Linked DNA regions of Homo sapiens. The protein of the gene in region 6 purifies or fractionates together with the protein of the main gene of each other region. This does not show direct contact. Each region holds a gene or a part of one and is shown on either strand. Other genes may lie near its edges. The genes, in order: COL12A1, OAF, CELSR1, CLSTN1, NXPH4, OIT3 and METRNL.

Region 1 (3,500 bases), on a different chromosome or scaffold from region 6:
ATAATGCATATTACATCAATATACCTATGTATTTTTCCCACTATGCCCAGGTATTATTTTATTTTGGGCATAGATTCCATGCAGCTTATTCATGACAGCCTTGCTTTCAAATCCCCTCTGAAAATTTCACCTAAATTAGTATCACCTTGATTAAATTATTTGTTATTTTTGTTTTAATATTTTGTCTGTATTCTTAGAGAAACTGGAAGAAAAATGCAGATTTCTTAGGGCATCTTCCATATATCCAGTAAGAGTATGAACTAGAAAAAACATGAAAGAGAGATGGCAAGATAAAGGAAGTAAAATTTGAACCTATGTAAGAAATAGAAAGAGAACTTAAAAAAGAAAGTGGGGTTGGTAACTAAGGAGTTTAGCAGCCAAAGTATGTGGAATGAGGTCCAAGATAGAAATTCTTAAATTATCTCTACAATAAATGAAAAAGTGTCAGTTGGACACCTACTATATGCAAAACACTATGTTGGCAAAATAGGGCTTGAGAAAGAAGCTTGAGAATTCATTCACTAAAGAAACATTGATTATATACCTACTATATTCCAAATACTGTGCTATGCTTTGAGAATAGGAGGGTGAAGGATTCAGTGTCTGCTTACAGTTTCATATTTGTCATATAACATAGCATGTGCCCCAGTGAGTAAGTGTATGAGGACTATGGAATTAATCGTGTTCATAATACCCTTTGACTATAAGATCTTTAATTTTAAGCAAAATTTCATGCTATTGATGGCATGTTTCTGTGTATTTTTGTGGTTGTTAATAAAGGTTCCAATGAGCCCATGGAAGCCTTTGTTGGAGAAATGACATCATATACCTTACACAATCTCAATCCCAGCACCACCTACGATGTGAATGTTTATGCTCAATATGATTCTGGACTCAGTGTCCCCTTGACAGATCAAGGCACTACATGTGAGTCATGGATATTTTCATGGTTGTGAGAAAAACTGTAGTAGAAATTACCAGGTCAGCCTGTTTTAATTTCCTGTTTCTGAACATATACATGTTTCCTCAGCATTATGTAGGCAGGCTATTTTGTGTCTGGTTAGACAAAATACCTATTCAAATACATAAATATTATAATTGAGTATATAAAAATATATATGGTGAGAAATTTGTGTATTTCACATAAAATATTATACTTTGAATTTTAAAAGATAAAAATTATAGAAATTGTCATTTTATCCATGAATGACCTGTAAAATTAGATCTGTGATGCTACTTAGTTCTTCTTGACATTTGATACCAAGATATATATTACCTAAATTCATTGATTTAATTTGACTTAATTATTGAATCATGATTAGTGTGATTCAGTCCACAGATATATTTTAAGGTCACCATTGCTTTGATAACTATTTAACGACTTAGCAGATAGCCTTTTAGAAATTGTTTTCATTATTTTCCATGAGATGTTTTTGAAATTCTTAGTTTTGAGAGGGACTATATGGAATTTCCTTTCCTTGAAAATCAGCGAAAGAAAGGGGGGTCTATTTTGGCAGTACCACATTTTTAAATATGATTCATGTATGTTTCTTATAAGGAAACATAATACAATTTTGAACTTTTTTTTAGCCACAGTGAAAGTTTGAAAATTGTGTTATGATTAAAAGTACACTTTTTGCCTCAATTTACAAAGTAAATCTCTTTCTTTCTTTATTTTGTAGTATATTTAAATGTAACAGATCTGAAAACTTACCAGATTGGGTGGGATACATTCTGTGTCAAATGGTCACCTCACCGGGCAGCCACCTCCTACAGGCTAAAACTAAGCCCTGCAGATGGTATGTGTGTAAAAAAGAAAAAAATGATCTGGAGCATGTAGTGGAAACATTTTAAATTTCAGTAAAGAAGATGCCATTTTGTTTATAACAATGCGATATAAAATTTTCTTGAAATATAATTGGTGATGACACTGGCATTTTCCTTTGTTGTCATAATCAGGAACAAGGGGACAAGAAATTACAGTGCGTGGATCAGAAACCAGTCACTGCTTCACTGGCCTTTCACCAGACACTGATTATGGTGTCACTGTTTTTGTGCAGACACCAAATCTCGAGGGACCAGGAGTCTCTGTTAAAGAACATACCAGTAAGTTTTTGAGGAATCTGGAAAGCTTTCATAAGGCTTTAGAATAGAATGCTCTAGGTAAGGAAGACTTAAGTGAATCCTGTGCAGGTACCTCTCCGTAGGGGTAGCAATAATGATGGGATGATGGCAGATTCCTGAATGTGGAGTCTAAAGCTGGTTCAGGACCTTTTTCTGTAGCAATTTGCAAGTTGTCCCTGTTATTGAGTTGGTGCTACTTTGAGGAAGGGCTAAAGGAGGGAGAGATGGCTCTCGCTGAGAAGGTGAATTCATATTAGTGACTTTTACTCATTTGACCCTATCTGAAGGCCTTACATTTTCCCTTTAGATCTTTATTTTCTGTAGCTGTAGTGGATGTTGAATGACTACCAGTGACATCAATTTGGATGGAATAAAATCCCCAGCATGTCAGTACCGATGACAATGGTGTCTCATTTTGTACGACTTGATTTGGTATCCAGGATTTAAATTGCTCTTAAAATTTACTTTCTGGGATATCAAATGTGCACATGGTGTGTTTTTATAATTATTATTTTTAAATTTTAGCTGTGAAACCAACAGAAGCCCCTACAGAGCCACCCACACCTCCTCCCCCTCCCACCATTCCACCAGCCCGGGATGGTAAGTACAGCTAAATAGGCAATACGTTCAGCTGATAGGGAGTTACAGACTTCTTATTTACGCTGCATGTGCATCATTTACAATTAATATAGAACATTTCTGATCTATTATTGCTGCTGAAGAGTTTTTAGATTGAAAGAAAAGATAACCAGTAATTTGTTTCTCTCCATCTCTGGGCACATTTTGGTGTGAATAAAATCAGTCATAAATTATTCCAGATCTTCAGCTGGAAGTCTGTTTCCTCAGTTTTACAGATTTAGGTCTTCCATGGTCCATAGTTACATGGTGGACATTTCTTTCTGCTAGCTGCTGGCATCAGTAAGCGCTGTGAACCCTTTTGGCTATATTTGCGACCGAAGCCCTGAGGCTGTTGGCTTTAAAATTCCTGGTGTCCAACCTGAGAAGTTCCCTGGATTATACAATGCTAAAAAATTTTCCATTCACCAAAATTTGAAAGATAATTGTAACTTGCAGTGAACTGGTGAAACGACATACTGATTTATTAAGGTTGATCTCTCAGCATTTGAGGGCAATTCTCTAGCACTTTGTCAAATTAAATTTAGTTAAATAACTACTGTATTATTCTTTTCTCATATGCTGTTTCCAGCATTTAATAGAAAGCATTTCAGATATTTTTATTTTATCTTAGAAGGATGTCGAACGTTACAACTTCGTTAAACCTATTATATAAGTAAAATTAAAAATTAAAAGTGTATTATTGTGGGGTAAAATAATAATGGATTCCTTTAAATTAGATACAGAAAGAAATTCAGTAA
Region 2 (3,500 bases), on a different chromosome or scaffold from region 6:
AGGTCAGGTCAGGGTGGCCAGGGCTTGGATCAAATGGGAAAGTGTGCATATTGGGGCGCTGGAGGAGACGGAAGGTACCGGCCTGATTAGGCTCAGGGGCTGTATGGGAGGGGCCAGCTTCTGGAGGACACTTATGTCAAGCTTGCGGCATAGTCTGGGGTGCAGGCCATGGGGGAGGGTGTATGTGTGTGGGGGGCAAGACCACAGCTTGGTTGGGTATTTCTAAATCTGGGCCTGCCCTGGGAGGAGCAGGCATTTCACCAGTGCTCAGTTGGCTGGCAGAAGGCACAGGGGCTCAGAGTTGGAATGGCGCCATTTCCCTCTCCCCTCCACACAGGGGACCTGAGGGCGGTCCTGGAAAAGGTACCCAGAGAGGGGTCAGCGCTGAAGTCACAGAGGTCAGGAAGGCAGGGACCATGCAGTATGGAGAGGAGCTTCCAAGGATCTTGGGGCAGAGATGCTGGCACCAGGGAGGGCCTGAAGCTGATATCTGAGAGGTGTCAGTGGAGGGGGGCAGGGTGTCCTTGTGCCCCACACCCATGACAGAAGGCCCCATCTCTGTGTCCTCACTAAGGGCAGGGACAAGGGGAAGTACCTGGGAATCTCCCTCCACAGGGCCTAGCAGAGTCTGTGTGCCCTGCCTGGAGCAGGGCCCTTTCCTCTGGCTGAATCTTCTCGCTGAATAATCACACAGGCTCCATTTCCTCCAGGAAGCCTTCCCAGACCAACTGTAGCCTGGTTTGGGGGTCCCTCCCTGAACGCCTGTAGCTATCATGGTATTCTATCACACTTAACTCTGTGCAGATCTACCCTGCTGGGGGACAGGAACTGAGTGTCTACATCTCTGATTCCTGCGCCAGTACATCTCTGTAGGTGTTCAGTAAATGTCTCCTGAACAAAGGAAAGGCTAATGATGAGACTTGGCTAATGATGAGACTCAACTAATGATGCCCCTGCCCTCCTCCACTGCTCTGTGCTGTCTCCCTGTCCCCTTCCCTCCGCCCAGCAGCGGGCAGTGCCCAGCTCCCAGCTGACCTTGCTCCAGCCAGAACCGGACATCCTCCTGGCGGGTGTAGATGGCATCCACGGCCTCGGCACACACGTTGTGGAGATGGGGGCTCAGCAGGGCCCCCTGGCTGAAGTTGACAGCGACATCCATGTGCAGATGCTCCAGACCCCGAACCTCCTCCGCCTGCCGCACTGCCCGGGGATTTTTCTGTGTGTGGGAGAGAAGTCACTCCTACCTGGCTTCAGAATGCTCCCTGTCCATCTTCCCCTGACCCTCCAGAGTCAGGCGAGCCCAAGCTGACTGCCTTTAGAACGCTGGGGCCATCTGCAGGGTGGCAGCCCCACCCCTCTCCAACTGGCAGTGAAGCTGATGCCTAGAGTACAGTCGAGCCTTTTCAGCCTCTATCCAGAATGGATGCTTCCCAAACTATGTGCTGGCCACTGGGCTGACCTCTGGGGCTTGATGGAGAATGCTGAGGTGTGGATGGGAGGTGGAGGTGGGTGGGCCAGGCAAGCTGTGCCAGGGCATATGACCTCTGGAATCACGTACTTTCCAACATCCAGGGAACCAAGTCCCTTTGGGAAAGCAGGCAAAGCGCAGGGGCGAGGAGGCCCCCAGGGCAGGCTCTGCTGGGCAGGCCAGGGAACTCAGATGAGGCTGGGGCAAGGCCCTGGGTCTAAGAAGACAGCAGGAGCAGGCCGGCAGCTTTGAGGGTCTTGAACACTTCACATATGTTTGCTCACTGAATTCCCCCATAACCCAGTTTCAGTGAGAAAATTGTGGCTTTGAAGGTAACTTGTCCAATGTCACCCAACTAATGAGTGACGGAGGAGATGTGATGTCTGATCTGACCTCAGAGCCCAAGCCCCTAGCCTGTCACACACGGGGAGGTGCTGGAACCAGATGGGAGAAATCTGAGAGTTGGGGTTCAGTTAGTGATCTGCAGCTCTAGGGTCAGGTTTGGCCTGGGGCAAAATCAGGGGCTCAGGACTCTAGGGTGAATGGGGTACCAGGGATGAGGGCAGGTCAAGGGCAGTGGGTCCAGGAACAGCGTGAAGATGAGGAGCTGGGTGGGAGGCTAAGGTTGGGGAATCAGAGCTTAGAGCTAGGCTGGCTGCAGGGGTCGGGTCTGCAGGTCAGGATCTGGGCCGGGTCTGCGGGATGGGATCTGGGCCGGGTCTGCTGCGGGTCAGGACCTGGGCCAGGCAGGCCTGGTGGGGCACTTACCTGCCGGAGCTTGGCCATGGCCTCACTGGGGATGATCTCATTGTGCTGCAGCTGGGTGACAAAGCAGAGGGCCTGGAACTGACTCTGCCCCTTCTCCAGCTCCCCCAGGATCAGGGCCCGGAAGACCTTCACATCCTGAAGAAGGGCAGGAGGATGGGAACGGCTGGAGGGTGTGGGACCTTCCCACTGGCCCACCGGGTGCTCAGCTTGGCCCCTGAACAGGATGCCTGGACACTGCCGGGCAACAGACACCTCCCTCCTGCTGGTCTAGGAATTTTTATCTTTTCCGTTTAAACCCGTGACTTGAAAGAAAGAACACACCCCAGATGTTCCAAAGATCCTGGAAAACTGACAAAGTGAACCACTAGAGTTTTTCCCAGCTGATGATTCCTCTCGGCAGAACCCCTTAACGTCACCCTGATCAGGGTGGGTCAGGGCCTCTACAGGCACCTGATCAGGGCATCATGGAGGAGGGCTGGACTTTTCCAGTACCGATTCCAGAGTTCCTCTTTTTTTTTTTTCTTTGTAGTTGTAATGGCTAGAAATCTTAGACATTCTTATTCAGTAGATCTGGGGAGAGGTCTCAAGATGCCCTTGGTGCTTCTGATTGGCCAGGCTCCTGGCCACCGACCACTGAGTGAGTGGAGTGGTGGGGCCGGGACGGGGTGAGGGCAGAGTGGGAGGCTGGCTGCAGCTGTTGCAGCCTTCCGGCCTGAGGGAGCTAGGATGCCTCGCCTCTTCCTTTCCCTCCCCACTTCCCCTTTCCCCCATGGGGTCGCTAATGGCATTGCCGCAGTCCAAGGGCTCCTTCCTGTTACTGACTCACTGTGTGAATGGGGGGTCTGCAGCAGGATGGAGGGAGTAGAGCTGTAGGGTGGGCTGGGGCCCCCTTCCCTATCCGGCTGCTGGAGCCCTGTGCTCTGCTCACCTGTACCGCTCACCACATGAGAAGTGGCCCCTTGCCTTCTTACCCATCTCTGTGACTTGATTAACTCTGCTCCCAGTGAGAAGTTAGTGGGTCCCAGTCAGAAGTGGTCTACATCTGTCAAGGCCCCTCCTGTGGTGGAGGCACCCTGACCTCAGTGACCATTCTCTGCTGGGAACCCCTATGGCTCTGCACTGAGACTTAGAATGACAGCTCTGTGGATCATCTATTAATGCCCGGGCCCCAGCTCCCCCCACCACACAGTCACTGAGTACTTGCTGTACACCCGCGAGAACAGAAGTGTCTCAGCAACAGGCTCTGAGTGGCCCCCTTGGAGTC
Region 3 (4,055 bases), on a different chromosome or scaffold from region 6:
GCTGCAGGATCCGACCCTCCCTTGCCAAAAAGACCCGTTCTAGGGGTGACTGCGCATTACTCCCACCCCCACCGCTCCGACCGGCCCCAGGAGAAGCCCTTCTAGGAGAGAAGAGGCGACCCCCACCTACCGTCCCCGACCACTGGGAGGCCTAAGGGCTGCACTGGACTCCGGCGCCCCGAGCGCCACCAAGGGAGTGCGCGCCCTTCCCAGCCGCTGGTGGCACAGTCCCAAAGCCCCGCCCATGCGGGGGGTCGCCAAGTCCTAAGCCTCCACCCCCTTTATCCCTGTGCCCCATCCGGAGGCAGGTGTACCCGTCACGCAAACCTAAAGCTGCCCCCGGCCCCCCGTGGTTCCCCGCAGGAGGCGGGGGTGTGTGTCACTTTTCTGAAAGCTCTAAGGTCTCTGCCCCCCGCCCCCCGCTGTCCTCCGTAGGAGGCTGGGCAGGGGCTGTGGCACAGCTCTAAATCCCTGCGGGTGCTTGCTTGCCCCAGGCAGCTTCCAGGACCCGCAGCCCCCCGCCTTCCCCGCAACCCGCTTCGGGAGGAGCCGGACGCTCGGGGATTCCGCGATGCGTCCGCGAACGCTCGGGTCGGGCCGCACGCGGGAGATGAGCGCGCCTCCGCCGTCCTCTCCAAATCCCTTATGTCAACCGGGGTTTTCTTCTTTCATTTAAAAGTTGCGCTTTAAACCAAGTGGGACGCAGATCCGGTAGCTGCCTATTGGGCTTCAAAGTCCAGGGAGTTTTAGTCGGGGTGAAGCATTTTAGCCTCCGTGCGTCTTGCTGTAAAATGGGTAACCCTCCTCGACAGCCTCCGCAGTCCTTAATGGGTGGGGGGGGGCTCCCCGGCCTCTCGGCCCCAGTCCTCCGCCCCCGGGTCCTACCCGCGCGGCACTCCTGGCGGCGGTCTCCGTGGATCTGTTCTGCCGGGGTGGGGAGCCAGGCTCTGAGCCGCGGCCCCGAGCCCGAGGTGCGGAGCCACCGCCCCACGGGTAGCGGCCACCGGGGGCCCCAGCCCCACCTTTCCCGGCCCTGTTGCCTCGGCCCCGCCCCACCGGGAGGCTGGGTGGGGAGGCCTCCGGGGAGTAGGGCCCCAGTCCCCGTCCCGGCCGCGCCCTCGCGTCTCCATAGCGATCCTCTCGGCGCGCACCTCCGAGCCGGCTCCCCCCGGGGCCGAACAATACGCCGCTGGGCCGGGGGCGGGGCGGGGCCGGGCCGGGGGCGGGGAGAGCGCGGGCGGAGTGGGCGCGGGCCAAGCGCACCGCCCAGGCAGCAGCCGGCCGCCGGGGTCTGCGCGGCGCGGAGCTGCCCAGCCCGCTCCGGGAACTCAGCCCCCGCCCCGCGCCGGGCCCGCCCCGCTTCCCACGCCCGTCCGGCCGAGCCCGCGCCGGAGCCACCTGGAGCCGCCTGGAGCCGCCGCCGCCGCCGCAGGTTGATGCGCGGCGCCCTCCCGGGACGCGCGGAGGAGCCATCTTGAAACCAACTTCGCAAACTTTCGCAAAGTGCTCTCGAAGTGGAAGCTGCGGGGGAGGCCGGGCGCGTGGTCCCCACAGTCCCCGCCAGGGCCCCCGGGGAGGCGGGACGCGGACCGCCCCGAGGGCCGGGCGCCCGGGAGCCGCTCCCCGGCCTCGCCGGGTGGATGCGGAGGCGCGCCGGGTGCATGGATTGTGTTCGGGCGCCCGGCTCGGGCTCGGGCTCCGGGCCATGGCGCCGCCGCCGCCGCCCGTGCTGCCCGTGCTGCTGCTCCTGGCCGCCGCCGCCGCCCTGCCGGCGATGGGGCTGCGAGCGGCCGCCTGGGAGCCGCGCGTACCCGGCGGGACCCGCGCCTTCGCCCTCCGGCCCGGCTGTACCTACGCGGTGGGCGCCGCTTGCACGCCCCGGGCGCCGCGGGAGCTGCTGGACGTGGGCCGCGATGGGCGGCTGGCAGGACGTCGGCGCGTCTCGGGCGCGGGGCGCCCGCTGCCGCTGCAAGTCCGCTTGGTGGCCCGCAGTGCCCCGACGGCGCTGAGCCGCCGCCTGCGGGCGCGCACGCACCTTCCCGGCTGCGGAGCCCGTGCCCGGCTCTGCGGAACCGGTGCCCGGCTCTGCGGGGCGCTCTGCTTCCCCGTCCCCGGCGGCTGCGCGGCCGCGCAGCATTCGGCGCTCGCAGCTCCGACCACCTTACCCGCCTGCCGCTGCCCGCCGCGCCCCAGGCCCCGCTGTCCCGGCCGTCCCATCTGCCTGCCGCCGGGCGGCTCGGTCCGCCTGCGTCTGCTGTGCGCCCTGCGGCGCGCGGCTGGCGCCGTCCGGGTGGGACTGGCGCTGGAGGCCGCCACCGCGGGGACGCCCTCCGCGTCGCCATCCCCATCGCCGCCCCTGCCGCCGAACTTGCCCGAAGCCCGGGCGGGGCCGGCGCGACGGGCCCGGCGGGGCACGAGCGGCAGAGGGAGCCTGAAGTTTCCGATGCCCAACTACCAGGTGGCGTTGTTTGAGAACGAACCGGCGGGCACCCTCATCCTCCAGCTGCACGCGCACTACACCATCGAGGGCGAGGAGGAGCGCGTGAGCTATTACATGGAGGGGCTGTTCGACGAGCGCTCCCGGGGCTACTTCCGAATCGACTCTGCCACGGGCGCCGTGAGCACGGACAGCGTACTGGACCGCGAGACCAAGGAGACGCACGTCCTCAGGGTGAAAGCCGTGGACTACAGTACGCCGCCGCGCTCGGCCACCACCTACATCACTGTCTTGGTCAAAGACACCAACGACCACAGCCCGGTCTTCGAGCAGTCGGAGTACCGCGAGCGCGTGCGGGAGAACCTGGAGGTGGGCTACGAGGTGCTGACCATCCGCGCCAGCGACCGCGACTCGCCCATCAACGCCAACTTGCGTTACCGCGTGTTGGGGGGCGCGTGGGACGTCTTCCAGCTCAACGAGAGCTCTGGCGTGGTGAGCACACGGGCGGTGCTGGACCGGGAGGAGGCGGCCGAGTACCAGCTCCTGGTGGAGGCCAACGACCAGGGGCGCAATCCGGGCCCGCTCAGTGCCACGGCCACCGTGTACATCGAGGTGGAGGACGAGAACGACAACTACCCCCAGTTCAGCGAGCAGAACTACGTGGTCCAGGTGCCCGAGGACGTGGGGCTCAACACGGCTGTGCTGCGAGTGCAGGCCACGGACCGGGACCAGGGCCAGAACGCGGCCATTCACTACAGCATCCTCAGCGGGAACGTGGCCGGCCAGTTCTACCTGCACTCGCTGAGCGGGATCCTGGATGTGATCAACCCCTTGGATTTCGAGGATGTCCAGAAATACTCGCTGAGCATTAAGGCCCAGGATGGGGGCCGGCCCCCGCTCATCAATTCTTCAGGGGTGGTGTCTGTGCAGGTGCTGGATGTCAACGACAACGAGCCTATCTTTGTGAGCAGCCCCTTCCAGGCCACGGTGCTGGAGAATGTGCCCCTGGGCTACCCCGTGGTGCACATTCAGGCGGTGGACGCGGACTCTGGAGAGAACGCCCGGCTGCACTATCGCCTGGTGGACACGGCCTCCACCTTTCTGGGGGGCGGCAGCGCTGGGCCTAAGAATCCTGCCCCCACCCCTGACTTCCCCTTCCAGATCCACAACAGCTCCGGTTGGATCACAGTGTGTGCCGAGCTGGACCGCGAGGAGGTGGAGCACTACAGCTTCGGGGTGGAGGCGGTGGACCACGGCTCGCCCCCCATGAGCTCCTCCACCAGCGTGTCCATCACGGTGCTGGACGTGAATGACAACGACCCGGTGTTCACGCAGCCCACCTACGAGCTTCGTCTGAATGAGGATGCGGCCGTGGGGAGCAGCGTGCTGACCCTGCAGGCCCGCGACCGTGACGCCAACAGTGTGATTACCTACCAGCTCACAGGCGGCAACACCCGGAACCGCTTTGCACTCAGCAGCCAGAGAGGGGGCGGCCTCATCACCCTGGCGCTACCTCTGGACTACAAGCAGGAGCAGCAGTACGTGCTGGCGGTGACAGCATCCGACGGCACACGGTCGCACACTGCGCATGTCCTAATCAACGTCACTGATGCCAACA
Region 4 (3,500 bases), on a different chromosome or scaffold from region 6:
GGTCAAGCAAGGACCTGGCATGCCAGTTCCGATAGCGCAGCAGGTGCAAAACCTCCTCGTAGCTGGCCATGGTGTCCACGCCTGCAGGGGTTGAAAGGGGGAAGATTGCCGGGTGGCTTAGGGCAGGAGCATGGGCAGGGCTGCAGCCGTCAGCACAGGCAGGCTCAATTAGACACCCAGGTTAGCTAGGCCAAGGGGTCACACAAGTTGGCTTTCTAGCCATGGGAATAAATGCAATGTGCACAGGGGCATTCTTCCCTCTGTGGGGGACGTGTCATCCCACGCCTCAACCCTCCCCCTTTAGAGAGTAGTGGCTACACATCCGGTACCTGTCCAGGAGACAGGAGTATGCGTGCAGCCAACAATGATCCCAGCGAACGTGCTCCTTCCCCATCTCCCTCTAAGATAACTCAACATTCTCAGATGGCAGGCAGCAGCCAGCCAAGAGCTCTCAAAGTCCCCTCTTGCAGCCTGGCCCACCTGCGTGGCTGCAGCGCTCCCCTTACCTGTGAAGGTCATGCCCAGTTCAGAGCTGCTCACTTCAATGCCCTTCTGCTGCAGGCGGGCCATGTCCACCTCCAGGCTCTCCTGCTCGTGGTTCAGCTCCTCTCCCTCCACCGTGACCTCACAGGTATCCAGGTCGTGCACGATCTCCTCGGACACCAGTGATTCTTGAACTGCAAAAGAGGCCCAACCAGAAATATTAAGTAGGGGCAGTGGGGCCCAGCGTGGCGGGGCACACTGGATGCCCTGCCGGCTCACCCCAAACCTACATGGCTCTCGTAAGGACCAACGACAGAAGCAAGCGAGAGTTGCTTTCAAGAAACGGCTGGGCGCAGTGGCTCACGCCTGTAATCCCAGCACTTTGGGAGGCCAAGACGGGTGGATCACCTGAGGTCAGGAGTTTGAGACCAGCCTGGCCAACAGGGTGAAAGCCCGTCTCTACTAAAAATACAAAAATTAACCGGGCGTTGTGGCAGGTCCCTGTAATCCCAGCTATTCGGGAGGCTGAGGCAGGAGAATCGCTTGAACTCAGGAGGTGGATGCTGCAGTTAGCCAAGATGACACCATTGCACTCCAGCCTGGGCGACAGAGTGAGACTCCATCTCAAAAAAAAAAAAAAAGGGGGGGAGTTTCATGTGTCCTGAGCAAGAATTGTGGGGACATTGTGCCTCCATGGGCTGGCCAGCCTGGCAGGTGCAAGCAGTGTCTCCCGTAAGTGCCCTCAACCCCTCAACCTCAAGCCACATCTCAAAGCCTGGCAGCAACCAGGAAAAGATGTAAGACCCCTCCAGATGGGATTCCAGAGATCACCATGAGCTCCAGCTCACGGGTCAGATTCCAGAAGCACACCCGAGAGAACACCAACGAAAGATTAAAACCTCCCCAAATCCCACAGAGACAAAGAGCCCCGCCAAGTACATGGGGACAATGGGGTTTCCGGCCGAGGCGAGGGAGCCCGCGCCCCACAGAGCACATTACCTGTGGGGTCCTCAGCCCCGTCCCCTTCAGGCTCCACTTCTCTCGTGATGGTGCTGATGATGCGAAGCTCAGGGAAAAGGAACACCCCTTCTGAGCTTTCAAATTCAGAAGCTGCTCGGGCAAAATGGTGGACGCCACTCAGGCTGATCTTGGGCTCCTCGGGCTGTAAAACCATCACGTAGCCATCTACCGGGGGGACCGAAATGCAGGTGGCCTCGTTAAAACACCTGCCAGCAAGAAATGGGGAAGGGTCAGGGCTTTGGGAGCCGATCTTGGAGCCCACCTGTGCAAAGGCACATGGAGGTGGGATACAGAGGCCCCCACTAACACCTGCCGGGGCCACTCCAGGAACACACTTGCAAACAAGATGCGTAAATATCACTCAGCTCTCTGCCCCACACTTTCTGGTTACACACGATGGCTCACCTTTCCTTACAGAAGGGGTTAGGCTGTCTTAAAAACCTAAATATACAAGTGTCATTGGGCAAAACAGGCCGGCTGTTAAAAATCAGGACGTACTTGATTGTGCTGGTGATTTTGAGTCTGCGAATTCCGGGCGTGGGGAACTGCCGGGAGTTCAGGTACGAGATGTGCTGCATGGCCTTATCCAATTCCCCGAGGTCTTCTCCCTCCAAGGTCAATACCAACTGGCTGGGGTGTGCTTGGATCTGAAATCACACCAGCCACAGAGAGGAGAAGAATAAGCCAGTAACCGCAGGAGCTGAAACCACAGATGCCTCCACAAAGGGGACTGGCCTGGGTTCGATTTGAATTGCTGACTTGAAAAAGAAAAGCTCGTTTAAGTCCAGTGAACACAACTCTTTTACCCAACAGTAAACGTATCAATCACAGATTACTCACTCCCTCATCCCACCAGCCTCCGGGGCTGTAGTCTAAGGGGCCCATGAGTGGTGTGCAGTCGAGCGCTCGGTGTTACCTGCACGCCTCTGCCACTGTCTTCGAGGACCTGCAGGTCCAGCCCCTCCTTGCAGGTATACAGACAGTCGATCACCTTCTTATCCGCGAGTTTCCCGGAACGGAGAGTTAAGCCAGCCAGATTGCCTCGGAAAAACTGGGTCATGTGCAGGTCGCCACCTTTGGGTCAGGGGAGAAAAGGCGAAGTCAGGCGTGCAACCCAGCATCGCCCAACTCACTTCTCACTCAACACGGTGTTACCGGTGCTGGCAGCTCAGTGGATGGACATGCGGGTTAGTTCATACCAAGTCCTGTTAGCCTTGCAATCTACATGGAAGCGCAATGAAGAAATTAAACCGTTTATGATCATGCACATGGCCTGGAGAAAGGGAGAGTTGGGGGTGTCTCACCTGAAGCCAAGAGGTCCCCTGAGGGTCCCCACACCTCTGGCCACTACCTGGTAAGGTGGCCTACCCTGTTCTCATCACCAGGGTGCATGGTGACACTTCCTACGCCACCAGCCTCTCCAGCCACTGCCTTCTCAGCTGGCTGGGTTCCACATGGCTGTTTTCTCTACCTGGCACGCCCTGGGGAATGAACCCACACAAGCGAGGCAGGGAGGATAAAAGGGAGGCTTAAAATACTCCCTGCATGGAACGGCCTATTTCAAGGATGCTATGGTGTTAAGTCCCATCCTTCCTGCCTCCTCCTGAGGATTGCTGAGAAGTGCAGATGTTACAACGAAAACCAAAACCCAGAAAATGGCCCTTGACAGATGACAACAAAGAGCCAGAAACAGGTTACACTAAACCTTGTTCTTAAACTGAAAAGGAAAAGGGACAAATTTTCAGCAATGTGTCTCATTCTGGTACAGAAATCAGGCACTGTAAATCATGACTAGGAATTGAGGTTTCTAAGAAACGGCTATTTGCCAGGCATGGTGGCTCACGCCTGTAATCCCAGCGCTTCAGGAGGCCGAGGCGGGTGGATCACCTGAGGTCAGAGTTTGAGACCAGCCTGGCGAACATGGCGAAACCCCGTCTCTACTAAAAATATAAATATTAGCTGGGCATGGTGGTGCATGCCTGTAGTCCCAGCTACTT
Region 5 (3,500 bases), on a different chromosome or scaffold from region 6:
TATAGCCAACCCAGACACGTAACCACACCAGTCACACAGACACCACTCCACAAATTGACACACACACCCAGCCAATCCAGGCACATACACACAGTCACCGATTTACACAACAGACATGCAGCCACGACAAGCAGCCACACACACACAGGCTCCTCAGACTCATAACCATGGGCATCCAGATACACACCCACACAGCCACCACAGCCACACACACATGTACCGGCCACACACACACAACCATTTGGGGCTAACAGAGACACCAGAACCCCAGGCTGACACACATGGTACTGCCTCCCCCCATGGGACCTGTGCACAGTCAGGGCCACAGCACGCGGCGGTGGTGGCTAGCTCAGGCTGACTGACACACTCTGACATGCAGCTCCTCTCTTGCCTGCTCCCCTCGCTGGAGCGGCATCTCCATATTTCTTCCTCTTGCTTCCTGTCTCCTTCACTCCTGGCCACCCCCACTCACCCCTACCCCAGATAATTGATGGCCCGGGCCTGGCCCGGCCGCTCCTGCCTCTCGATCCATCTTGTCCTCGAGCCCATGCTGTCTCCAAGATCGGTGGCCACCTGAGACACATAGAACGGGTGGGAGCAGGAGGGGGCTCCTTAGCCCCCTTGGAGCCCAGGAAAAGAACGGCCAGGCGGCCTCCACCAGAGTGGAGCACTGGCGACTGGGAGGGATACCCAGGCTTTCCTCCTCTGCTCAACTGGTTCCCAGCACTCACTCCTTGCAGGCCAGTTGGGGCTGAGGCCCAGGTGGGGGCTCTGGTCTCTGAGGTCCTGGAGCCTCTTTCTTTTTCTTTTTCTTTTCCTTTCCTTTTTTCTTTTCTTTTCTTTTTTTTCTGAGAGGGAGTCTCGCTCTGTCGCCCAGGCTGGAGTGCAATGGTGCGATCTAGGCTTACTGCAACCTCCACCTACCAGGTTCAAGTGATTCTTCCACCTCAGCCTCCCCAATAGCTGGGACTACAGGCGCACCCCAGAACGCCCGCCTAATTTTAGTAGAGATTAGGTTTCTCCATGTTGGCCAGGCTGGTCTCGAACTGAACTCCTGACCTCAGGCAATCTGCCCACCTCAGCCCCCCAAAGTGCTGGGATTACAGGCGTGAGTCACCGCGTGTGCCGGGCGGGAGCCTCTTTCTTGATGCTGGATGTTAATGTGGTCACAGCCTCCCTGGCTCAGTTTGCTCAGAGTCCAGTCCCTCCCTGGCTCATTACTGGAACCAACCAGGTGCCGGGCCAGGAAAGATGAGCCAGGATCCAGAGCTCCACTCCCTACTCACCTTCACACTGGCTTTGGGTTTTTGGCCCTCATTGGAGCTCTGTGGGCCACATCAGGATTCTTGACGTCATTTCACAGATGTACAAACTGAGGCCCAGATCCATGAAGTGACTGGGCCAAGACTACATAGCTTGAAAGGGCTGCAGTTCTCCTCCAAGGCACGCTCCCTGCCCGCTGCGGGACTGCGTGATTCCATTTGGTCTCCTAGCGGCTGTGGAAAGGGACTGGCGTCGATAGGGCTCTGGCAGGATGGCGGGGGACAACCCCAGCGTCTCTCTCTCCTCTTTCTTCGTGCACAGGCCGTCAGTGCCCAGATACCAGAGTCCGGAAGGCCGCAGTACCTGGGGCTGCGCCCCGCCGCGGCCGGAGCGGGTGCCCCCGGCCAGCAGCTCCCAGAGCCAAGGTCTTCGGACGGCCTAGGCGTGGGCCGCGCCTGGAGCTGGGCCTGGCCGACCAACCACACGGGGGCGCTGGCCCGGGCAGGGGCAGCCGGGGCGTTGCCCGCGCAGCGCACCAAGAGGAAGCCGTCCATCAAGGCGGCGCGCGCCAAAAAGATCTTCGGCTGGGGGGACTTCTACTTTCGGGTGCATACCCTCAAGTTTTCGCTGCTGGTGACCGGCAAGATCGTGGACCATGTGAACGGTACCTTCAGTGTGTATTTCCGCCACAACTCGTCCAGCCTGGGCAACCTCAGTGTCAGCATCGTGCCGCCCTCCAAGCGTGTCGAGTTCGGAGGAGTCTGGCTGCCCGGGCCTGTCCCCCACCCTCTGCAGTCTACGCTCGCCCTGGAGGGGGTGCTTCCTGGGCTGGGGCCCCCGCTGGGGATGGCAGCAGCAGCGGCGGGGCCCGGGCTTGGGGGCTCCCTCGGGGGCGCACTGGCGGGGCCGCTTGGGGGCGCGTTGGGAGTGCCTGGGGCCAAAGAGTCACGCGCTTTCAATTGCCACGTGGAGTATGAGAAGACAAACCGCGCGCGCAAGCACCGACCGTGCCTGTACGACCCGTCGCAGGTGTGCTTCACCGAGCACACGCAGAGCCAGGCCGCCTGGCTCTGTGCCAAGCCCTTCAAAGTCATCTGTATCTTCGTCTCTTTCCTCAGCTTTGACTACAAACTGGTGCAGAAGGTGTGCCCAGACTATAACTTCCAGAGTGAGCACCCCTACTTCGGATAGCGCCCCTCCCCAGCCAGTCCTGAGCCTCCCGCCAAATCCCAGCCTCACTAGGTGGGACCCCCTTCCCAGTGTTCTGCCGCTCCTGTGGCCATGTCGCCCACTCCTTCCACTCTGGGGGCGGAGGGGAATGGCTTCTCGGGACCCTCAGCTAGCGTGGGTGCCCTTTTCCTTATGCGGAGTGCCCGCAAGGCTGGGGTAGCCCCCTCCAGTACACCCCAAAGTGAAAGGGATAAGAGTGCAGCCCCAGAATAGGCGGGGCTTGGAGGCGGTCCCAATGTCCCCTGGGTCCACAGTGGGTCCCCTTTTCACCCTTGGCGCTAGGCTGCGCACTCCCTTTCCCCGCAGCTTTAATAACTCCTGGCCTGGCACCCTCACCCCACCCTGACTTTCCCATCCCCCAGCGCTTGTCCTGCTTCACCCTACCCCGCCTAAGACTGTAAAGGCCTAAAAACCTCGGCCTGTCCTCCCACCATTCTGCCTGCCATATGCCTGTCCCCTTTTCCTCCAAACCCTATTAGGGTACCGGAAGCAGAACCCCTGGGCTGAGGCCCTGGCCCTGCCCCCGGCCCCTGCCCCTGCCCGCCCCCCTCCAGTCCAGGCAGTCGAGCTCCACCTGCCCTCTCCTGCTGCTTCCTCTCGGTGATATTTTTTCTACGCCAAAACAGACGGGAAAGGGAACAAAATAAAGTGAAATCCAATACACGCCTGTGTGAGACCTTTGTAGGGAATGGGGAGGTGGCGTGGGGCTTCTATGTGGTAGAGACCTGGCCAAGGCCTTCTCCCTCAGCGGCTCTTGGGGAAACCAAGACAAAGACTGACAGAGCTAGCACCTTGGAAGTCACCAAAGACCAGATCAAAGAGAGCTGAGGGTTACCCTCGGGGTAGGAGCCCCGCCTGAGGTTGGGATTCTCCTCCCTGAGGTGGGCGAAGGGAAGCTGCAGCAAGTGGGATGGAAATGAGACCTGAGTGGGGATCACCAGCGGACGATTTGGGGAAGGAGGTGTAAGACCTTGAATGGGATGGACAGGGACAGTGTAGGCAGAGCG
Region 6 (3,500 bases):
GCAATCCTAGCTTCCAACAAAACAGACTTTAAACTAGCAAAGATCAAAGAAGACAAAGAAGAATGTCACATAATGATAAAGGGTTCAATTCAACAAGAAGAGCTAACTATCGTAAATATATATGCACCCAACACAGGGGCACCCAGATTCATAAAGCAAGTTTTTAGAGGCCTTCAAAGAGACTTAGATTCCCACACAATAATAGTGGGAGACTTTAACACCCCACTGACAATATTAGATCATCAAGACAGAAATTAACAAAGATATTTAGGACCTGAACTCAGCTCTGGATCAACTGGACTTGATAATTATCTACAGAAGTCTCCACCCCAAAACAACAGAATATACATTCTTCTCATCACCATATGATACTTACTCTAAAATTGATCCATAATTGGAAGTAAAACACTCCTCAGCAAATGCAAAAGAACTGAAATCATAACAGGCTCTCAGATGACAGCACAATCGAATTAGAACTCAAGACTAAGAAATTCACTCAAAACCATACAATTACATGGAAATGTAATAACCTGCTTCTGAATGACTTTTGGGTAAATAATGAAATTAAGCAGAAAACAAGAAGTTCTTTGAAACTAATGAAAACAAAGATACAACATACCAGAATCTCAGGGGCACAGGTTAGGCAGTGTTAAGAGAGAAATTTATAGCACTAAATGCCCACATCAAAAGCTAGAAAGATTTTAAGTTAACAACCCGACATCACAACTAAAAGAACTAGAGAACCAAGAGCAAACAAATCCCAAAGCTAGCAGAAGACAAGAAATAACCAAAATTAGAGGTGAACTGGAAGAGACAGAGACACAAAAAACCATTCAAAAGATCAACAAATCTAGGAGCTGGTTTTTCCAAAAAGTTAATAAAATAGATAGGCCACTAGCTAAACTAATAAGGAAGAAAAGAGAGAAGAATCAAATAAACACAATCAGAAATGATAAGGGGGATAATACCCCTGGCCCCACAGAAATACAAACAACCATCAGAGAATATTATAAACACCTCTATGCATATAAGCTAGAAAATCTAGAAGAAATGGATAAATTCCTGGACACATACACCCTCCCAAGACTGTGAATCCCTGAACAAACCAACAATGAGGCTCTGAAATTGAGGCAGTAATAGCCTACAACCAAAAAAAAGCCCAGGACCAGACAGATTCACAGCTGAATTCTACCCCCTGTACAAAGAAGAGCTGGTACCATTCCTACTGAAACTATTTCAAAAAATTGAAAGGGAGGGACTCTTACTTAAGTCATTCTATGAGGCCAGCATCATCCTGAACCAAAATCTGGCAGAGACACAACAAAAAAAGGAAACCTCAGGCCAATATCCTTGATGAACATTGATGCAAAAATCCTCAACAAAATACTGGCAAACTGAATCCAGCAGCACATCAAAAATCTTATTCACCACGATCAAGTAGGCTTCATCCCCAGGATGCAAGATTGGTTCAACATATGCAAATCAATAAATGTGATTCATCACATAAATAAAACTAAAGGCAAAAACCATATGATTATCTCAACAGATGCAGAAAAGGATTTCAATAAATTTTGGCATCCTTTCATGTTAAAAACGCTCAATAAACTAGGTGTTGAAGGAATATACTTCAAAATAATAAGAGCCATATATGACAAACCCATAGCCAACATCATACTGAATGGGCAAAAGCTGGAAGCATTCCCCTTCAAAACAAGCACAAGACAAAGATGCACTCTCTCACCACTCCTATTCAATATAGTGTTGGAAGTTCTGGCCAGAGCAATCAGGCAAGAGAAAGAAATAAAGGGCATTCAAATAGGAAGAGAGGAGTCAAACTATCCCTGTCTGCAGATGACAAGATTCCATATCTAGAAAACCCTATCATCTCAGCCCAAAAGCTTCTTAAGCTGATAAACAACTTCAGCAGTCTCAGAATACAAAATCAATGGTGCAAAAATGCCGGCATTCTTATATACAAACAACAGTCAAGCCGAGAGCCAAATCACAAATGAACTCCCATTCACAATTGCCACGAAAAGAATAAAATAACTAGGAAAACAGCTAACAAGAGAAGTGAAAGATCTCTAAAAGGAGAACTATAAACCACTGTTTAAAGAAATCAGAGATGACACAAACAAATGGAAATACATAGGAAGAATCAATATTATTAAAATGACCATATTGCCCAAAGCAATTTATAGACTCACTGCTTTCCCATTAAACTACCACTGATATTCTTTGCAGAAAAATCTATTTTAAAATTCATATCGAATCAAAAAAGAGCCTGAATAGCCAAGGCAATCCTAAGCAAAAGAACAAAGCTGGAGGAATCATGCTACCCAACTTCAAATTATGCTACAGGGCTACAGTAATCAAAACAGCATGGTATTGGTACAAGAACAGACACAGATCAATGGAACAGAAAAGAGAACCCAGAAATAAGACTGCACACCTACAACTCTCTGATCTTCAACAAACCTGACAAAAACAAGCAATGAGGAAACGGTGCTGGGATACCTGGCTAACCATATGCAGAAAATTGAAACTGGACCCCTTCCTTACACCATATACGAAAATTAACTCAAGATGGGTTAAAAACTTAAGTGTACCCTGGTGTGATTCTGTCCTGTGCGGCTGTTCTCTTGAGCAGTGGTGGTTTATCTCCATCCGCCTTCTCTCCCACCTAAGTGTGTGCCGCCACCCGATGGAAGATTCGATGGACATGGACATGAGCCTCCTGAGGCCCCAGAACTATCTTTTTGGTTGTGAATTAAGGCTGACAAAGATGATCACTTTAAGGTGGATAATGATGAAGATGAGCACCAGTTATCTTTAAAAACAGTCAGTTTAAGGGCTGGTGCAAAGGACGAATTGCACATTGTTGAAGCAGAGGCAATGAATTACGAAGGCAGTCCAATTAAAGTCACACTGGCAACTTTGAAAATGTCTGTATAGCCAACGGTTTCTCTTGGGGGCTTTGAAATAACACCCCCAGTGATCTTACAGTTGAAGTGTGGTTTAGGGACAGTGCATATTAGTGGACAGCACTTAGTAGCTGTGGAGGAAGATGCAGAGTCAGAAGGTGAAGAGGAGGAGGATGTGAAACTCTTAAGTATAACTGGAAAGCAGTCTGCCCCTGGAGGTGGTAGCAAGGTTCCACAGAAAAAAGTAAAACTTGCTGCTGAGGAAGATGATGATGATGATGATGATGACGATGAAGAAGATGAAGATGATGATGAAGATAATGATGATAATGATGAAGATAATGAGGAAGCTGAAGAAAAAGCACCAGTGAAGAAATCTATACAAGATACTCCAGCCAAAAATGTACAGAAGTCAAATCAGAATGGAAAAGACTCAAAACCATCATCAACACCAAGATCAAAAGGACAAGAATCCTTCAAAAAACAGGAAAAAACTCCTAAAACACCAAAAGGACCTAGTTCTGTAGAAGACATTAAAGCAAAAATGCAAGCAAGTACAGAAAAAGGTGATTCTCT
Region 7 (3,500 bases), on a different chromosome or scaffold from region 6:
ATCACAAAATGCCCTCATCCATGACCATTAAAGATAGGTCACATTTTTGCAATGCCAGCAATTTTGCATAAACAGACTCTGTTTTCAGGTTTGCTGAGGTGCTGGATATTTGGAGGTGAGAGATTTGAGGCACTCGATTTTCTGGTAGGAACCAGCACAGACCATGAGTCTCGGACTTCGTGCCGAGGTCTGCTGGGTCCCAGGCTGAAGGATGCATCGTTTAACTTTTTTTGTCTACACGGGTCTTGCGCATCATGTGCTACTGATTTTAATGTGAAAATCCCTACGTCAGCGGGTCTGGTTGGAGTCCCGTTGGTCTGGATGTTTCGGGAGAATGTGAGAGGAGAGGGGAGCAGGCCCTGTGCTGGGTGCAGACCCGTCTGAGTGCGCTGAGAAGACGTCAGGTGAAGGCCGGGGTAGCCGGGTGTCTTCTTTCTTCTGTGTCCACCTTCATTTTGTCCTCTTCCTCTTTTTGCCCAGTGTCTTCTGAGTGGGTGGAGCCAGGCGTGCCCACCAGATGCGGGTAGCATGTGCTAGGCCAGGACGGCCCCCAGGCTCAAGTCGGCCTCCTCCTGGGCAGAGGTGGGTTGGCCGCCTGTCCCCAGCTGAGTTGTGGCTGTTCCCCTCGCCTGCTCAGATGAAGGCAGTGCTGTCAGAGGTGACCAGAGCCCGCTCCCTCGACCTTCAGGACTCCCCGAGAGGGAGGCAACGTGTCAGGACGGTGTATGTGGAGAGAGGGTCGAGGCTCGGTGCCTGAGCACGGGCAGGAGGACAGTGGCCTCGATGCCAGAGACGGGAGGGAGAGACGTGACGATGAGGCTGCATAAGAAGAGAGCTGACTGTAGCTGAGTGTATCAGCCACTCACCGAGTCCAGTTTCCACACAGCACGATCATCGTGCCCTTGCCCACACACGTGTTAGATGAGCTTGTGTGAGCTTTATGGGCTGTAATTTGTGAGTCTGTTCTGGGTGTGTGATCCTGGCAGCCGGCTAGGCCTGGCCACTCGTGACCTGGGGCCTTGTCGGGGTGGGGAGAGGGTGAGGAGGGGTGCACCCTCGACACCACCCTCTGATGTGGCCTGCAGCCTATGAAGAGTGAGGTTTGGGGGCCCAGAGTGTGAGTCACCAGCGGTAAATGCAAACCATATGTGATGCATTTTCTCTGCTGCAGAAAGGGTTTCTGGTGACTCGCTCAGGCCAGGGCTCTGGAAACAGCATTGCTTATTTCACATAAAAATCCTAAGAATGTGGGTGAACCTGTCTGAGATCTGCGTAATAAAACACTTAGTTGAAGTCACCGGGTTAGTTCCAGGCCCACTTGGTTATGACGTGGCTGTTAGCCACGAGCTGGCATTTACGTTAAAGTGTTGAGAAGCGTGAGGGTTTTGATGTTTCAGTTTCTTGAAAATATAACTGTTTCTACTCAGGACCTGCCTCTCCAAGAGTGTAGCACACTTCATTTTTTTCTGTTTAGCATGTATGAGGGTGAACTTAGCTTGCTACTCACACACTACTCACCCTGTGGAGGAAGTTCGCCTCGCTTTTGTGGTGAGTCTTGCTGTAATGATAGCTTATATTTACAAATACCGTCGGCAGTGCAGGGTCTTCAGGCTTGCAGAAAACGGTCAAGTCATTACTTTGAGAAATGTACAAACATCTATGCTTAATGAGGTGCTAAAAGACAAAACTCATCTACAACCTCCTTCCCCCCAAACTGCCAACACTCTGGATTAACTTAAAAGCTGCTCTCTGGGCAGGTTGCATCCCAGGGCTCCTCCTTCACACGTGGTGGGGCCCCACCTTCGCTTTACCTCTAGCGTCCCAGCCCTCGTGGTCATCTGGAACCAGGGTTGGTACACAGGGCCTGCTGGCATTCCTGTGATACTCCGTGATATTCTGGAGGAATCCATCCCTTCCCTGGGGCTCCATCCCACTGCCCCAGCACCTCCAGCCACCCTGATTCAGGGACATCGCAGAGATTGGTGTTTGACGCTACGGCAGCAGAGGCGCAGACTCTTGAGTGTTGGAGGGTGTCTGGAGGGCCTGGGGACAAGCACCGCCTGCACTCCCGGGAGCTCGGCCCCGCCCCACCATGGCTCTTGGTGCAGGTGCACTGGAAGGAACTGGGTGGGGCCCTTGTGCCGAAGGGCGGAGATGGCGCCGGCCTGCCTCACGGGCAGGGGTCCGTGTGGCACCTGTGGCCGGCAGCGGGTGGGTCCAGGAGCCGCCATCATTTGGAGCGGGTATCGTCCTCACTGACTCTCTGTGGGTGCGGGTGGGGTGTGTGACGGGAGCTCCGGGCCTGGCTGACAGTGTCTCTCCTCTGCAGCGGGCTGACGCACGAGGCACACAGGAAGGAGGTGGAGCAGGTGTATCTGCGCTGTGCGGCGGGTGCCGTGGAGTGGATGTACCCAACAGGTGCTCTCATCGTTAACCTGCGGCCCAACACCTTCTCGCCTGCCCGGCACCTGACCGTGTGCATCAGGTCCTTCACGGACTCCTCGGGGGCCAATATTTATTTGGAAAAAACTGGAGAACTGAGACTGCTGGTACCAGACGGGGACGGCAGGCCCGGCCGGGTGCAGTGTTTTGGCCTGGAGCAGGGCGGCCTGTTCGTGGAGGCCACGCCGCAGCAGGATATCGGCCGGAGGACCACAGGCTTCCAGTACGAGCTGGTTAGGAGGCACAGGGCGTCGGACCTGCACGAGCTGTCTGGTGAGTGTCCTGCCTGGGGCGGGGGCGGCGGGCCTCGTCATCACGGGGCTGGTGATGTGGCAGGTGTCTCTGATTTCTTCCTGTCCCCTCGTCTGCTCAGCCTTGGTGAAAACCCTTCTGTGTCTGTGCTTCGGACATGACTGTTTTGCCTGAAGAGCCCCCCAGGTGGCTGGGGTTGGGGGACACTGGCGCCCGCAGAGGGGCCCTCCTAGGGGGTGTGACATGGTGTAGGGGGGTGTGGGATGTCTAAACTAAACCATCTTGGAAATGCAGCCTTTCCAACTAAAACCACCTTTGAAAAGACTGGCCCATCTGGGTTAGTGTTTCGGGCGGCATGGCCTTGGCCGAGCGGGGCCTCTCTCCCTGGAGGTGTGTCTGGGGAGCATGGTGAGCATCCCCCTGTGGCGGCCGGGCCAGTGCTGGGTCGGACGCGCCCCCATGCTTGTGGATCGTGTAGCACCTTTGAAACGGGTGCTTTTGCCATTCAAACTGCCCTGGGAATTGGCTGGGTGTCTGTGGTGTCGGCTAAAGACCCTGAAACGTCCATTTTTGGGTGGGAGCTGAGGCTGGCTCAGCCCTGAGCGGTGCTGAGCTGTGACGCCCAGAACATGGGGCCACCCCCGTCCCAGAGGGGTCTTGTGGGTACGATAAACAGACAGCTTCCCTGTGTGGCCGGCAGGGAGTGGAGGTGTCACGTGGCGTCTCTGGACGCCTGTGCTTGGGGGAGAGGTCCTTCGTGGAGGGCTGTGTTGGTCTCTAGAAAATTCTGTGGGTAGACACCAGGA

What was found.
Region 1: the proteins of OIT3 (region 6) and COL12A1 purify together in Homo sapiens (affinity purification with mass spectrometry; one large-scale study listed by BioGRID and IntAct). This does not show direct contact.
Region 2: the proteins of OIT3 (region 6) and OAF purify together in Homo sapiens (affinity purification with mass spectrometry; one large-scale study listed by BioGRID and IntAct). This does not show direct contact.
Region 3: the proteins of OIT3 (region 6) and CELSR1 purify together in Homo sapiens (affinity purification with mass spectrometry; one large-scale study listed by BioGRID and IntAct). This does not show direct contact.
Region 4: the proteins of OIT3 (region 6) and CLSTN1 purify together in Homo sapiens (affinity purification with mass spectrometry; one large-scale study listed by BioGRID and IntAct). This does not show direct contact.
Region 5: the proteins of OIT3 (region 6) and NXPH4 purify together in Homo sapiens (affinity purification with mass spectrometry; one large-scale study listed by BioGRID and IntAct). This does not show direct contact.
Region 7: the proteins of OIT3 (region 6) and METRNL purify together in Homo sapiens (affinity purification with mass spectrometry; one large-scale study listed by BioGRID and IntAct). This does not show direct contact.

Annotation. Positions count from the first base shown.
Region 1 is NC_000006.12:75,122,554-75,126,053, reverse strand, and holds part of COL12A1 (collagen alpha-1(XII) chain long), read left to right. Parts: intron 1-780; coding exon 781-927; intron 928-1,682; coding exon 1,683-1,799; intron 1,800-1,959; coding exon 1,960-2,106; intron 2,107-2,649; coding exon 2,650-2,724; intron 2,725-3,500. UniProt on the Homo sapiens protein: Type XII collagen interacts with type I collagen-containing fibrils, the COL1 domain could be associated with the surface of the fibrils, and the COL2 and NC3 domains may be localized in the perifibrillar matrix.
Region 2 is NC_000011.10:120,224,532-120,228,031, reverse strand, and holds part of OAF (out at first protein homolog precursor), read right to left. Parts: intron 2,372-3,500; coding exon 2,237-2,371; intron 1,217-2,236; coding exon 1,036-1,216; intron 1-1,035.
Region 3 is NC_000022.11:46,534,821-46,538,875, reverse strand, and holds the start of CELSR1 (cadherin EGF LAG seven-pass G-type receptor 1 isoform 1 precursor), read left to right. Parts: upstream 1-1,255; 5' UTR 1,256-1,705; coding exon 1,706-4,055. UniProt on the Homo sapiens protein: Receptor that may have an important role in cell/cell signaling during nervous system formation.
Region 4 is NC_000001.11:9,733,466-9,736,965, forward strand, and holds part of CLSTN1 (calsyntenin-1 isoform 1 precursor), read right to left. Parts: intron 2,578-3,500; coding exon 2,420-2,577; intron 2,151-2,419; coding exon 2,002-2,150; intron 1,710-2,001; coding exon 1,483-1,709; intron 678-1,482; coding exon 507-677; intron 82-506; coding exon 1-81. UniProt on the Homo sapiens protein: Postsynaptic adhesion molecule that binds to presynaptic neurexins to mediate both excitatory and inhibitory synapse formation.
Region 5 is NC_000012.12:57,223,294-57,226,793, forward strand, and holds the end of NXPH4 (neurexophilin-4 precursor), read left to right. Parts: intron 1-1,584; coding exon 1,585-2,454; coding exon of another isoform or gene 2,455-2,653; 3' UTR 2,654-3,156; downstream 3,157-3,500. UniProt on the Homo sapiens protein: May be signaling molecules that resemble neuropeptides and that act by binding to alpha-neurexins and possibly other receptors.
Region 6 is NC_000010.11:72,917,739-72,921,238, reverse strand, and holds part of OIT3 (oncoprotein-induced transcript 3 protein precursor), read right to left. Parts: intron 1-3,500.
Region 7 is NC_000017.11:83,082,609-83,086,108, forward strand, and holds part of METRNL (meteorin-like protein isoform 1 precursor), read left to right. Parts: intron 1-2,329; coding exon 2,330-2,715; intron 2,716-3,500. UniProt on the Homo sapiens protein: Hormone induced following exercise or cold exposure that promotes energy expenditure. Induced either in the skeletal muscle after exercise or in adipose tissue following cold exposure and is present in the circulation.